Regions from separate parts of the Homo sapiens genome. Here all the other regions are reported to be linked to region 4. The links are microRNA targets in miRTarBase. Many come from high-throughput screens and were not tested one by one. Region 4 holds a microRNA gene; each other region holds the end of a gene's coding sequence.

What was found. Region 4 holds the annotated microRNA hsa-miR-4433b-3p (CAGGAGUGGGGGGUGGGACGU, at 1,651-1,671, opposite strand). A microRNA usually pairs through its seed, bases 2 to 8, with sites in the 3' UTR of a target mRNA and lowers its output. Matches are read on the target gene's strand: a 7mer-m8 pairs with bases 2 to 8, a 7mer-A1 pairs with bases 2 to 7 and ends in A, and an 8mer does both.
Region 1: miRTarBase lists SBNO1 as a target of hsa-miR-4433b-3p. The part of its 3' UTR that is shown has no 7-base or 8-base seed match.
Region 2: the mRNA of SNX11 is a reported target of hsa-miR-4433b-3p. Seed matches in the 3' UTR shown: 7mer-m8 at 1,740-1,746.
Region 3: the mRNA of UNK is a reported target of hsa-miR-4433b-3p. Seed matches in the 3' UTR shown: 7mer-m8 at 1,241-1,247.

What each region holds. Positions count from the first base shown.
Region 1 is chr12:123,293,431-123,296,534 of GRCh38, forward strand. SBNO1 (strawberry notch homolog 1) reads right to left here. Exons shown (of 32, transcript NM_001167856.3): 32 at 1-2,620. The coding sequence ends at 2,478. Among named protein-coding and RNA genes, the nearest start is that of CDK2AP1, 23 kb to the left of the region's middle.
Region 2 is chr17:48,121,258-48,124,361 of GRCh38, reverse strand. SNX11 (sorting nexin 11) reads right to left here. Exons shown (of 7, transcript NM_013323.3): 7 at 761-3,104. The coding sequence ends at 2,854. Among named protein-coding and RNA genes, the nearest start is that of SNX11, 15 kb to the right of the region's middle.
Region 3 is chr17:75,823,871-75,826,870 of GRCh38, forward strand. It overlaps UNK (unk zinc finger), which reads left to right. Exons shown (of 16, transcript NM_001080419.3): 16 at 392-1,929. The coding sequence ends at 547. Among named protein-coding and RNA genes, the nearest start is that of UNC13D, 19 kb to the right of the region's middle.
Region 4 is chr2:64,339,119-64,342,222 of GRCh38, forward strand. It overlaps MIR4433B (microRNA 4433b), which reads right to left and starts at 1,730; the gene lies at 1,629-1,730. MIR4433A (microRNA 4433a) reads left to right here and starts at 1,641; the gene lies at 1,641-1,721. LOC105374768 (a long non-coding RNA gene) reads right to left here and starts at 2,591. Exons shown (of 3, transcript NR_189739.1): 1 at 2,417-2,591.

The DNA.
Region 1 (3,104 bases), not on the chromosome of region 4:
CTGATTTTTGCAAGACCACAGTGTAAAGGTCGGATGTCCACCTGAAGAAGGGGTGGGTGCAACTCTCTGGGTGCTGCACACACCATGACCAGCCTGGGCATGCAGCACCCCAGCTCCCATCCATTCACACTGGTTGCCTTTGTGAGGTCCATTTTGAGAGGGCTTTCAGAGGCCTTTTTAATGAGAAAAAAAAATAGCTGTTCTACAAAGAACCTAAGATACATACACTCCTATTTATCAAGATGGCTAGTCCAGAGCAAACATTACATCATAGGCCATGGGGGTTGTCACTTAGCTGCATGCTAAGAATCCTCATATGCTGCTTTGAAAACGCCATAAAAAACTAAGATGCCCTCATACACAGAAAAGAGGAGTTGGGCCAACAGCCTGCGAGAGAAGATCCTTCCCAACTCTGCCATTCTTACTGCAGGAGGGTTTGTAATGCTTCCCCACTTCCTCAGGTCCAGCGACTGCACCTCCACCACTGGAGTGGGGGACACTTCCATTGCTGATGGAAGCTGCCTACTGCTTTTAAAAACACACACATGAGCTGAGAAGTTCTGCTGAAGGTGGGGAGAGTGCTGCTCTTGGCTGCCAGCCGGGTCTAGCGGCCCTAACAAGGGAAACTGGCTGATACAAAATGGATCACTGCCTGAGATATATGAACTGGACTGAGGATAGAAGTTGCATCCGCTGGGCAAAATGTGCCAAAGAACAGAAAGTACTTTCAATTTATTCTTTTAGGCACCAAGAATAAATAAATCCTAAGAAAACTTACGGTAAGCTTGACATAACCAAACTCAGGCTAAAGGAGACACAAGAGGATGAACGCCCTAAGCTTTCAGCCAGGTTTGTCAGTTTTAACACACATCTCACCCAATTCTGCAAGAAGTTTACAAACAATTCAACTTAAAAAACATTCAGAAGTACTATCATTATACCCTTTCCCTCAATGCCATCTTACATTTTAGGGATAAGTTTTAAGCCAAACTATAAGGCTACCTGGAATGCTGAGACAACACACAAATTCTGCTGAGTCCCCGTCACAGACTACTTCTGAAGGTCACCAGTGAGGGCCTAAACAAGAGTCCACTTCTTGTTAGTATAATAACTTTTTATTTGACATCTACAAGATTTTGGCATCTTGCAGCTTTTTACCAGGTTTATACAATCTCGATTTTTCAATAGTGCAACCTGTGGAAGCAAAAAAAAAAAAAAAAAAAAAAAAAAAGAAAAAAAGAAAAGAAAGAAAAAGAAAGAAAAGATAAAAAGACCAACTGTCCCCTCACTTGTTTTTATAAACATCTATTATAGGCGAAACAAAACTTACCCATATTATATAGATAAGTGTCTATTCACATTTGTACATTACCATTTTTAACAGCTTGAGATAAACTCTACGTCTTACAACACATTAAACAATATTCAAGTTACTGAGTAACAACAATAACAACAATAACAAAAGAACACACAGCAGAAGCCTCAAGTGTTTCCTCATTGTCTACAACTCAGGTATGGTTTCCTTTTTATGAGTGACAAAGCAAATTAAGATAATGAAGTAAAAAACGATTGTTTGCAAGATGAAAGCCAATTTGTACTTCCTTCTAAAACTACCTTTAAGTTGCAAATGTAAATTTAAGAGGCTCATAGCCATTTCTGCAGCACACATTAGGAATACTATTAATACATTAAAATTAACTTTTAAGAGTTTTATCACAGAAAAATGTATGTATTCATTACCTTGACCAGAAACCCAGGGCAGGGAGAAGGGGAAGGAGGGGTCTGCAGGGTTTGAAGCAATACCCAGGTATAAACACTATAAAAATGCAATAACCAATGCTGTACATCTAACAAATGTTTCTCTCTGTTACTCGACTCCTGTGTTAATCTTGTTTCAGCATGCTTCCAAAGACATGCACTGTCAGAACAAAAATTAGAAAATAACCTGAATGCATGATATGCAACCTTTCATTTCATGCTTTAATAAACCTATTAAGTTGGAAAAAGAAACCAATATATATTTTCTATATTTATAGACTCAAAACACATGCATCCGGGGATACCTCCCACAGCAATGGCATGGATGTACTGCGTTAACCCTGAGCACTGTATAAACATAAAGTAAAGCCAGTTTGGGAAGTTCCAAGCATTTTAAACCAACTGTGGTCTGTAGCCTTTAACACACTCACAAACAGACTGACACACACGCACACACACATCCCCCTCTGCTCACCCGAAGTAAAAGCAGATGGGAATTATCAGGGGAGAAGCTAAAGGAAAGACATATGTACCACCATCAGCACTGCTGATTTTCAGTTTTGCTATCTATTCCAGGTTTGTCCTTACTCCCAAAAAAACTAACTAGAGAGCACAACTGAAAAAAATATATAATTCTTTGGAAACTGTCCCTGATTTTTATGCAAATGATATGCTTCAACAGCATTTCAGATCCATCCATGTTGAAACCTGTCTGTTCTTCATGCGTTGCTCAAGTTGGTGATGCTCTGAGGGTGATGCTGTTGCCATAGCTGTTTCTGTTGGACCGCAAGCTGTTGAGACTGGTCTGAAGTTGATAGGAGATTTACAAGAGGAGACACACAATTTGCCGGAATGATCAAACCTGTAATTAGTAACAAGAATTTATCAAGTTGTGTCCAGAAGAAACCACACTGTACAGCTTCACAGCAGATTCCAAATGAGGCATAATATTAAGCGTAATGGACAAGAAGTTCACACAAAAATTAAACGACTACCTAATAAATGAAATGGCCATTGAGATGTAGTCTGATTCTTCCACAGCATTTCCCACAAATACCCAAGCATATGCATGTGTTTAGTGTAATGCTATCTTGTTGGAGGAATAGGAAGTCAAGAATATCTATTATTCTCTTTTTAACAGGAGGTTAAGAATATCTATTATTCTATGTATTATCTTTTAATGCACCAAAAGACTACAGAACAGAAGTTGCAAATTCAAATGCTAACCGAAACAGGTTAACTTAGAAGAGCAGATACTAGCAAACTGGAAAGGATACTCTCTGGGTGCTGGTTAAGGGAACTTTAAGTCCTGCATGTAGGATTGAAGGCTCAATGTTCCAGATAAA
Region 2 (3,104 bases), not on the chromosome of region 4:
CCCTGTAATCCCAGCTACTCTAGAGGCTGAGGCAGGAGAACTGCTTGACCCCGGGAGGTGGAGGTTGCAGTGAGCCGAGATTGTACCACTGCACTCCAGCCTGGGCAGCAAAGGCTGCCCATCTCAAAACAAACAAACAAACAAATAAAAAAACACACACAAAAACATTGAGCTCAGTTTCCTCAACGAAAAAAGGAGCATATACCTAACCTACCTTCCTTGCTAGGCACTGAGAAGGGCCAATAAAATTATGTTTATAAAACTTAGTATTTTAATGTAAGAAAACACCCCCCTCACACACAAACACATTTCCTCCCACCAAACAACCTCCACAAGCTTGGAATCAGTCATCCTGGGTAATGGATGACTAGATGTGGGCCATGGAGGTATCTGACAGAAGAAAGGTGACTACATCAGGACAGAACTTGACTCAAAACTAAATTCTAAACAAAATATTTTTATCCTACAAAACAGCTCAATGAGCCACTCCCCACAGCTAATCCTCCATCTTTCATAGAGGTCATCTGGCCACAGTGGCTAGACCTGGGCACACGCAGGGACAGAGCAAAACAGAAGAGGGGCCTATGGCACTATCTGGATGGAGAGGAAAACTCATGTGCGCTATTTTTCGGATGACCCTAGGCTTGTATTATTAGAAAAGTGCTTTCCTTCCTAGGACTTCTCCTTCCAAGGCCTATACTCAGTTAAGAGAGAGACTGAAAAGAGATGGTGCCTGGCCTTAGATTAACTGAGGTGCTGTTGTATGCATGCTGCTAATGGATCATTAAAAAAGCTGGGAGTCAGAAAAATCACATCCATGTCTTTGAATGGCTCCTGCTGTCCCAGCAGCCTAGCCGGCTGGCAGAACTAGCTGCTGAGCACCAACTCCAGGAAGAAAAGGAGCAAACAGAAGAAGGCCAACCCAGCTTGCTGTTTTTTTGGCTGAGTAGGGAATTGACACAGACCACCTCCAGCTCCTGTCTGGAAGTTTCGAGATCAGAGAGCTTCAGGCACAGCTGGGTTCACAGCTGCACCATTTGGAGCATTGGGCTCATTAATATTCATGAGCCATCCCCACCAATCGGCAGAGCGGATGCCATTAGCTTAGCATCTGTCGGGTTTTTGTGAGGGTTGCACATGGAGTTTTTTTCCCCTTTTAAATGAACTTCTTCTGACATTTTGGATTTGCCTCTGTAGGTTTTCTATCCTCGCCTTGCTCTGCTGCATCATATAAAGGAGAGACCCAGGGGAGGCGGGCAGGAAAGAGGGATGAATACCAGCCAGGGCTTTGCATCTGCCTGTTGACAAACTTTATTTCTCTTTCAGCACCTGGCACCTCAGACAGACTGCGAGGATGGAAGCAGCATCAGGTAAATTATACCTAACAAGGTTCACGCCCAGAACTGTGAGAAGAGTTGGATCCCAGCTCTTTGGAAGACAATCCTTCCTCCAGTGGTGAACTTGAGCTGCACACACAATGCAGGAGGGCTACAGAGCACAGTTCTGAAGCATTATTTCCACACTGATAAATTCATGATTTATGAAAGGAAATACTGCCAGCGCTCACTCCCTCCTTCTCTGCTACAGCTTGTTAGACACAAATTGCAACAACAATCTTAAATACTTGCATTTTATTTCAGGCCAAAGCCCCTCCACTCTGAACTAAATGCCATGACAGTCCCACAGCATAGGCTGGTAGTAAAAGAGCCCACAGACAGGGTAGGATAGCCAGAGGAGGGAGGAGTGGGCGACAGGGAGGGGAAGGATCACACACACAAACCTAAGAGTAGAGCAATGCAGAATGCCTGTGGCACTCGGCTCCTACCAGCTCTGGCTCTCAGTGGAGATGAAGAATGGCAGCAGGAGGACAGAATGCCTCATTGTCTGAAGGAGAGCGTGTTGTTTCTCATCTCCATCCCCAGAGCCCTCTCTTTCAGGCAGGCAGAAACAAAGCCCTTGCACCCCACTGCACTGCGCAACACAGCAGAGACGCTGGTGGCGGAAGCCCTGGAGGCAGGGAGCTGCTACCAAAGGAGAAGAAAAGGATTCCAAAAAGAAAGGAGCCCACTCTAACCCTGCGGAAAAGATGGCCACATGTCTGCTTTATAACCAGAAGAGACAGTAACAGCCCGGGACAGCCTTTCCCAAAATAAAGGCCCCTGGGCTGTTACTGTTCCCTCTGGCTGTGGCCAGCCACTTCTCTCTCATGCATGACCATGAGCTGTTGTGCAGGTCTCAGGCTCCACTCAGCCAGGCTAAGGTCTCGGGACATAAATCCCCAGCAGCAGGAGTCACAGCACCAGTTCCATTCAGTGGTATCAGTGAAAGAAAAAGCAAGGAGGTGGGAAAGTAAATATTCATCCCCCTGTCCATGCAAGGAGGTAGGCAAGAGGCCAGCCTCCCACAAACAAAGTGCTCTAGGGCTACAGCAAAAACTGAAGCCAGCCAAGATGGGGATACAACATAACCACTCCCAGTGGGATGATGTTCAATATGGCAGCTTAGAATTTGCCACATACGGGTCCCCAAAACTGGTCACCTGAGGAGATACTCCTGGTCCTACATACAAATGACCTGCAGAAACTCAGATCCCAGGAGAGTAATATAGGGTTCTGTTCAAAAGCAACAGCCCCTGTGTCTTATGTTTAACTTACAAACATCTGCACAGTATTTGTTCCCATGGAAGAGGCATAAGGGGCTGTAATGACTGACCTCTGTCAATCAGCCCAAGCAGAGGTGACTAGAAGACACTAAGCAGCCCAGCCTCCCACATACCTGCCCTGTGCCCAGTCCCACCTGAGTAAGTCTCCTGGCCCGCATCTTCTCTGACCATCTCAGAGCAGAACCCAGAGCTCACTTTTCCAAAACTGTTTCTAACTGACCAGGGTCCAAAGGCACAGCATGATCTCCTCCCACAGCCCTCCTCACAGACTGAAGAGTGGAGGTTCCCTCTTTGGGTCTTCCAAAATCACAGCATAATGGTGAGGAGAGGGGTGGGAGAGTGGGACTTTCCAAGGAAGGAACCTCAGAGTCAACAACTGGAGCCCACACTTCTAAATGGTCCTTTTCTTCACTGGGAGGCGGTGAGGGAGAGCTCCTCCTAC
Region 3 (3,000 bases), not on the chromosome of region 4:
TCCCAGGTCTCCTGCTGGGTCCCCGGGGCCAACGTGGCATGGTGGGAAGAGCTGTCTTTCCTCTGTTCTCGGGCAGCCAAGCCCCCGGGTGTGGCCCTGGGCATGTCCCAGCCCTTTCTGGGCCTCATTTTCCCCATCTGGGGATTACAAGGTCAAATGAGACTGGGCGAAGCCTCTCTGAGGGGTGGGTCTTGTGGCAGCCTGGCCATGCCCCATGCAGAGGTGGACTCAGCCTGCTCTCTCACCTGCCAACAGGGGTCTGGGAGCACACTGTTGAGCTCGGTACCTCAGTTTTCCCATCCCAAGGGGCTGCAGTGAGGATCAAGGGAACTCCTCGCTCAACTTGGGGCCAGACCCATGGATGGTGACCACGATGCCCCTTTCCCTGCAGGCCGTGTTCCACATGCAGTCGGTGAAATGCCTTAAGTGTCAGGAACAGAAGCGGGCAGTGCTGCCGTGCCAACACGCTGCGCTGTGTGAGCTCTGCGCTGAGGGCAGCGAGTGCCCCATCTGCCAGCCTGGCCGGGCCCACACCCTCCAGTCGTGACCCTGCAGGCCTGGCCCAGCCTGGCCCAGATCTTCTCACCTAGGACTTTTTAAAGTATATATATATATATGAATATATATATATATGTGTATGTATGTATGTATATGTATATGATTATGTATATGTATACATTTCCGTATGTATGTATATGTATACATTTCCGTATGTGTGCAGGTATGCGTGGTGGTGTGGACAGTGTCTGTGTGTATATCTGTACATAGATATAGACACACACTTTAAAAGACTTACCAAGCACTTTTTAAAAGAAGAAACTATTTTGCAGTCCTCCCCTACCCACTCCCTGCCCTTCCCACTGCAGAGATGACATCCCCTCTTCTCCCACTGGCCTTTTGGCAGAGAATCTGGTTCTGTCTCTTTTTTAATGTAGGAACTAACTATTTTTAACTTCTTCCTGGGGCCTGAGCAGGGAAGGGTGGGACTGGAAGGCACTAAGGGGAAGGGAGAAGCCCTCAGGGCAGGCCCTGCTCCCCCTACCTCCTTGCCAGGGCAAGGGTGGAGTGTGGAAGACGTGGGTCCCCCAGAGCAGGCCTGGCCCCCAGCTGTGAGGGCCTCAGGGAGGCCCGAGGGGGAGTGCTGGGGGTCTCAGCTGGCTTAGCTCCTAAGTTTACCAAATGTTAATTTAGTCTTGGGGAGAACAGCAAGGGCTGGAGGCCAGTGCTGCAGGGCCAGCCCCACTCCTGACACCTGGGCCCTTGAAGCTCCTTGAGGGGCAAGGCCCAGGAGTTCCAGCCCTCAGGTTCCTGAGGGTCCACCCTCAGTCCTTCCCCCCGCCGCCCCTCCCCGGACTCCCCACAAGAGCCTCCCTGGCCCCAGGGCCGCCTACCAGGCTGGTACTCATTCTATGACCACCGCCCCCAACCAGCTGCCCCCAGCTCTCCCTGCCCCCTCCCCTCTCTGGCAGCTAGCAGGGCAATTGGCGGGGAGGAGTGCGGACTGAGGACTGAGGACCAAGGGGGCCCAGGCCCTGCCCTCCTACCCGGAGGGGCTCCGTTTGCATTCCTTGGTGCTCTCTGAGTGCAGCTGGTGTCCCGCCCTGTTCTGGGCGGACGCCTGTGTGCGTGTGTGTGTGCCTGTCCAGTGTATATTGTGTCTTAGCTTCCATTTTAAAAATTGTTCTGTACAGAGAGAGATGCAGCAGGGGCGGGAGGGCAGAGTGGGCGGAGGGGAGCAGCCGCACCCCCAGCACCGGGTGTCTGCGGTAGGAACAAGAGGGCTGAGAGGGTCTGGTCCTGGCCCAGGCTCCCCCTTGGGCTCAGCACGAAAGGGCTTTCAATGAATTAAGTGAAAACTTTTTCCTTTTTTACAAAAATGCAAAAATCAACAAAGCTCCAAACCTATTGGAAATAAAATATGAACTTGCAGTGGTAGCTTGTTTACATGGGGGTGAGGGGGAGTGGGTCCCAAAAGAGGGCCTCTGAACTATGAGGTGGGCCAGGAGCCTTGCCTCAGCCATGGAAACGGCTGCTGCCCACACCCCTGAGCTGTGGTAAGGCAGCTGGAGAGGGCTGGAAACTTCCTGGGCCCATCAGGCCCCAAGACAGTTCAAGTGCTCTCCGACCTAGGCCTAGCGGTTGATGACACAGGGACCCTTAGCCTTGGACACAGAGGCCCCCCAGGCCCTAGGACTCTTTAGGGCTGTGTGGTCAGCGGTGACTGGCAATAGGGCCCGTAACTGTTTCTCAGAGGAACAGTGTCTTCCCAACTGGGCATGGTGGCGCATGCCTGTGGTCCCAGCTACTAGGGAGGCTGAGGTGGGAGGATCACTTGAGCCCAGGAGGTCGAGGCGGCAGTGAGCCATGATTGCACAGCTGCCTCCAGCTTGGGTGACAGAGTGAGATCCCATCTCAAAAACAAAAACAGGCCGAGGCGGGCAGATCACTTGAGGTCAGGAGTTCGAGACCAGCCTGGCCAAAATGGTGAAACCCCGTCTCTACTAAAAAAAAAAAAAATACAAAAATTAGCCAGGTGTGGTGGCACATGCCTGTAGTTCCAGCTACTCAGGAGGCTGAGGCAGGAGGATCCTTTGAACCCGGGACGCAGAGGTTGCAGTGAGCTGAGATTGCCCCATTGCACTCCAGCTGGGCGACAGAGTGAGACTCCATCACAAAAACAAAAAACCCAGTGCCTTCCCATTGGGATGATTTGCTGGTAGGACCCAGAGGAAGTCCTGCCTTCTGCCTTCTTCACCCTACCCTGCCCCTGAGGGATGAGGGGCTGAGGCCTAAGAGGTACGTCCTCCCTCCCACCTCCTCAACTAGGCTGTGCGGTGGGGGGTGAGAAAACACCCTGGTGGGATCCTCTTTGCATGGTCTCGGGCCTTGGATGTCATCTCAGCTAACCTCGACTCCTGTCCTCATTTTGTGCAGACTCAGAGGTTCCGACATGGAACCAGGGTCACACAGCTAGGATGACGTGATGACCAGGCCTCAGGT
Region 4 (3,104 bases):
GTGGGGCTGTTTTTAGCCCAGCTTGCAGCCTTACCCCCTGCTGCTTGCAGCACCATCAGAAGCATACCTGCTCCAAGAGAGAAAACAGACTTTGACCACAAAAGGACACATGCTTCTCTTTTGCATGTCCTCGGATGCCTACTTGGGATCGCATGGGTGCTGAGAAGATGCTGTTGATGGTTTGCCCTGGTTGTAGCTGCATTTCTAGGGGTGTGGCCTAAGCCAGGCAGTCGGGGTGAATAGGGCTTCTCCTTTCAGAGGTTCTTCCAAGAAGGGAAAATCGTGTGCCCATTGATTTTGTTTCCACCACAATCTTTGTCCAGGCCATCCATCACCTTTCCCCCTGAATCTACAACCCCTTCAGGGGTGTCTCTGTTCCCACCCTTCTCCTGTCCTATACAGTCTGCACTTGATGGCCCAGAGCAGCCTTCCTCTGACTGTTCTCATCAAGTGGCTATAACCACAGTGCTCACCCAAGGCACACTGGGGGAAATTCAAGCTTCTCCTGCCCTTTTCCTAAAATACTCATGACCACCAAACACTATTTATTCCAGTATATCTTGTGGAAGGGGGTGTTGCTGAGTATTAAGCAAAAAACTTTATTTTTGTATATTCAAACTTATGGAATAAGTTCAGGAAATACTGAGTTAAAAGGGTTAAAGTGTTGGTTTTTCAACTGCAGGACTTCTCAGACTCTTTGAGATGCTGATGTACACAAGGGGTATGGGCTGCATGTTTCTACATGCTGATTTGATATAGAACCCTAGATAGAGCATCTCGCAAGACCAGTGGTCCCTGGAACCCAGCTTAGAAAACACTGCCCCAAAGAAGTCTCCTGAGAAAAATGTATTGCTGTTGATCTTTCAGCCTTCGTCACTGCTATCCTTCCCCTAAAGGGCTTGCCTTCAGCCTCTCTACCCATCCTGGTTCCCCCAGTGCTTTGGAACCAGGACAGACACACTCTGCTCCTAATAAGCATTTCATAGTCAGCCCCAGCCCAGAGCTCTCCTTATCATTCATTCATTCATCAAATATTTTTTGAGCATTTACTTTCTTCCAGGAGCTGTGCTAAGAGATATAGTAGCAACCAAGGAACATTCCAGTAGGAAACAGACAGGTAAGTAGATGGGTTTAGTATAGTGTGAGAAGTACAATACAAACACACCCAAGGATAGATCCAGATTGAGTCTTGGACAGTCGGAAAGACTTCCAGGGGAAAAAAAATGGCATCTTTTCTTCATTTCCACACTTAGCAATTTTTCTATATTGGTTTGTCATTTATTCATTTAATCACCAATCATTTATTGTGGGCTGGGCACTGTGCAGAGATAGTAATCAGACTTGACTTGAGGACGATAAGAAATCACTGAAGGGATTTTAAGCAGAGAAAGGACATGATCTATTTACACTGGTAGATGTCACTTTGATTGTAGGAAAAGTGGACCGGCCAGGGCAAGGCTTGAGGCAGGAAGCCAGCTAGGAGACCACTGCATGAACCCACATAAAAATGAGGACCTGGGCTAGGGAAGTAGCAGGAAAAGTGGATTTTGACAGATATCTAGGACAGAGCCAACAGGACTTGGACAGCAATGGGATGTGGGGGAGTAAGAGGGAATAGTTTAGGATGATGTTCTTTCCCCCATCCTCCTTACGTCCCACCCCCCACTCCTGTTTCTGGTGAAATATTCAAACAGGAGTGGGGGTGGGACATAAGGAGGATAGGGAACACAGGATGAAGGGCAGGTTACAGGGGTCCACGTGCGAGGGGAAGATAATGTGTTCAGTTTTAGACATGCTGAGCTCATGATTCCAATTCCTTTGGACATTCCAGTGGAGATATCTGGCAGGCTGATTTTTCTCACGAGAGAAATCATGTCTGGAAATACAGATCTGAGAAGCAGCAGCAACATATGGGTGGCCACCAAAGCCGTGGACTCAGTCAGCACCATTAAGCCAGAGTGATGGGTGAGATGGGTGACAAGGGCCCCCCTTGCAGCAGGTGGGTGACAAAAGAAGAATCAGTGTTGCAGCATGGGAAGGACTGCCCAGAGAGAAAGGAAGTGAACCAGGAGAGGATCTAGAAAAAGGACACTGGGCAATGAGAGCTTGGAGCGGGCCTCTGCACCAGGGGAGGGGTGGCTTTGACTGGCAGATACACATGTCTAGTACACGTGGAGGGTATGAAAACTCCAGGGAAAGAGAGGGGCAGCAGGAGCTCCCTCTTTTTGTAAAACAGGCTTTCTCTTAGGCGTAGCCTTCTAACTGATCTGCCCCACTATCCTCAACCCACTCTCCACTTCATAGCCAGATAGGTCTTTTCAAAACACATCTCTGATCACATCACCGCCTCTCCCCCAGCTCTATTAAAAACCTTTGGATATTTCTATGGCTCTTAGCATGCAGACCAAACTCCTACCTGGCCTGGCCTCTACTTCCTTCTCCAGGTGCACCTTCTGCCAGACTCTCTTGCTCTCTCCCCTGCAGCCAGCTGGCTTCCATTCGGCCTCGCAGACTCGTTGCATGGGTGTTACATTGTTGCTGTCAGAGCCATGTCCACCCTTCCCATCCCGTGGTCCCCCGATCTGCTCTGTGTCACTGGGGGCTGTTCCAGGCTCCAGAGCCAACTGCCTTCCAGTAAAGTTCAGCCAATGGGGAGTGAGGGAGGGCAAAAGATATTGGAGGTGAAGGAAGGAGAAGCCAGAGTACTTCTCCTGCTTCTCTTTCTCAGGAGTCTCTTCTGTGGCTGCAGTTCCCACTACACAGCCATCTCTGTGTGATCCCTGCTACCCATCTTGGCAGGCCCTCTTTGTTCCAGCTTATCTTGTCTTAGGCTCCAGAAACTGTTTCTTTCCTTGTTCTCCAGCTTCCAGGGTGGTGCTATGGGTTGAATTGTGTCTCCCCTGCAAGTTCATGTGTTGAAGTTCTAACCCCCAGTACTTTAGAGTGTGACCTTATTTAGGGTTGTGGTCTTTATAGAGTAGCCGAATTAAAGTGAGGTCATTAGGGTGGACCCTAATCCAATATGAATGTTGTCCTTATAAAAAGGGGAAGTTTGGACAGAGATAGACACACACAGAGGGAAGACGATGTGAAGAGACATAGGT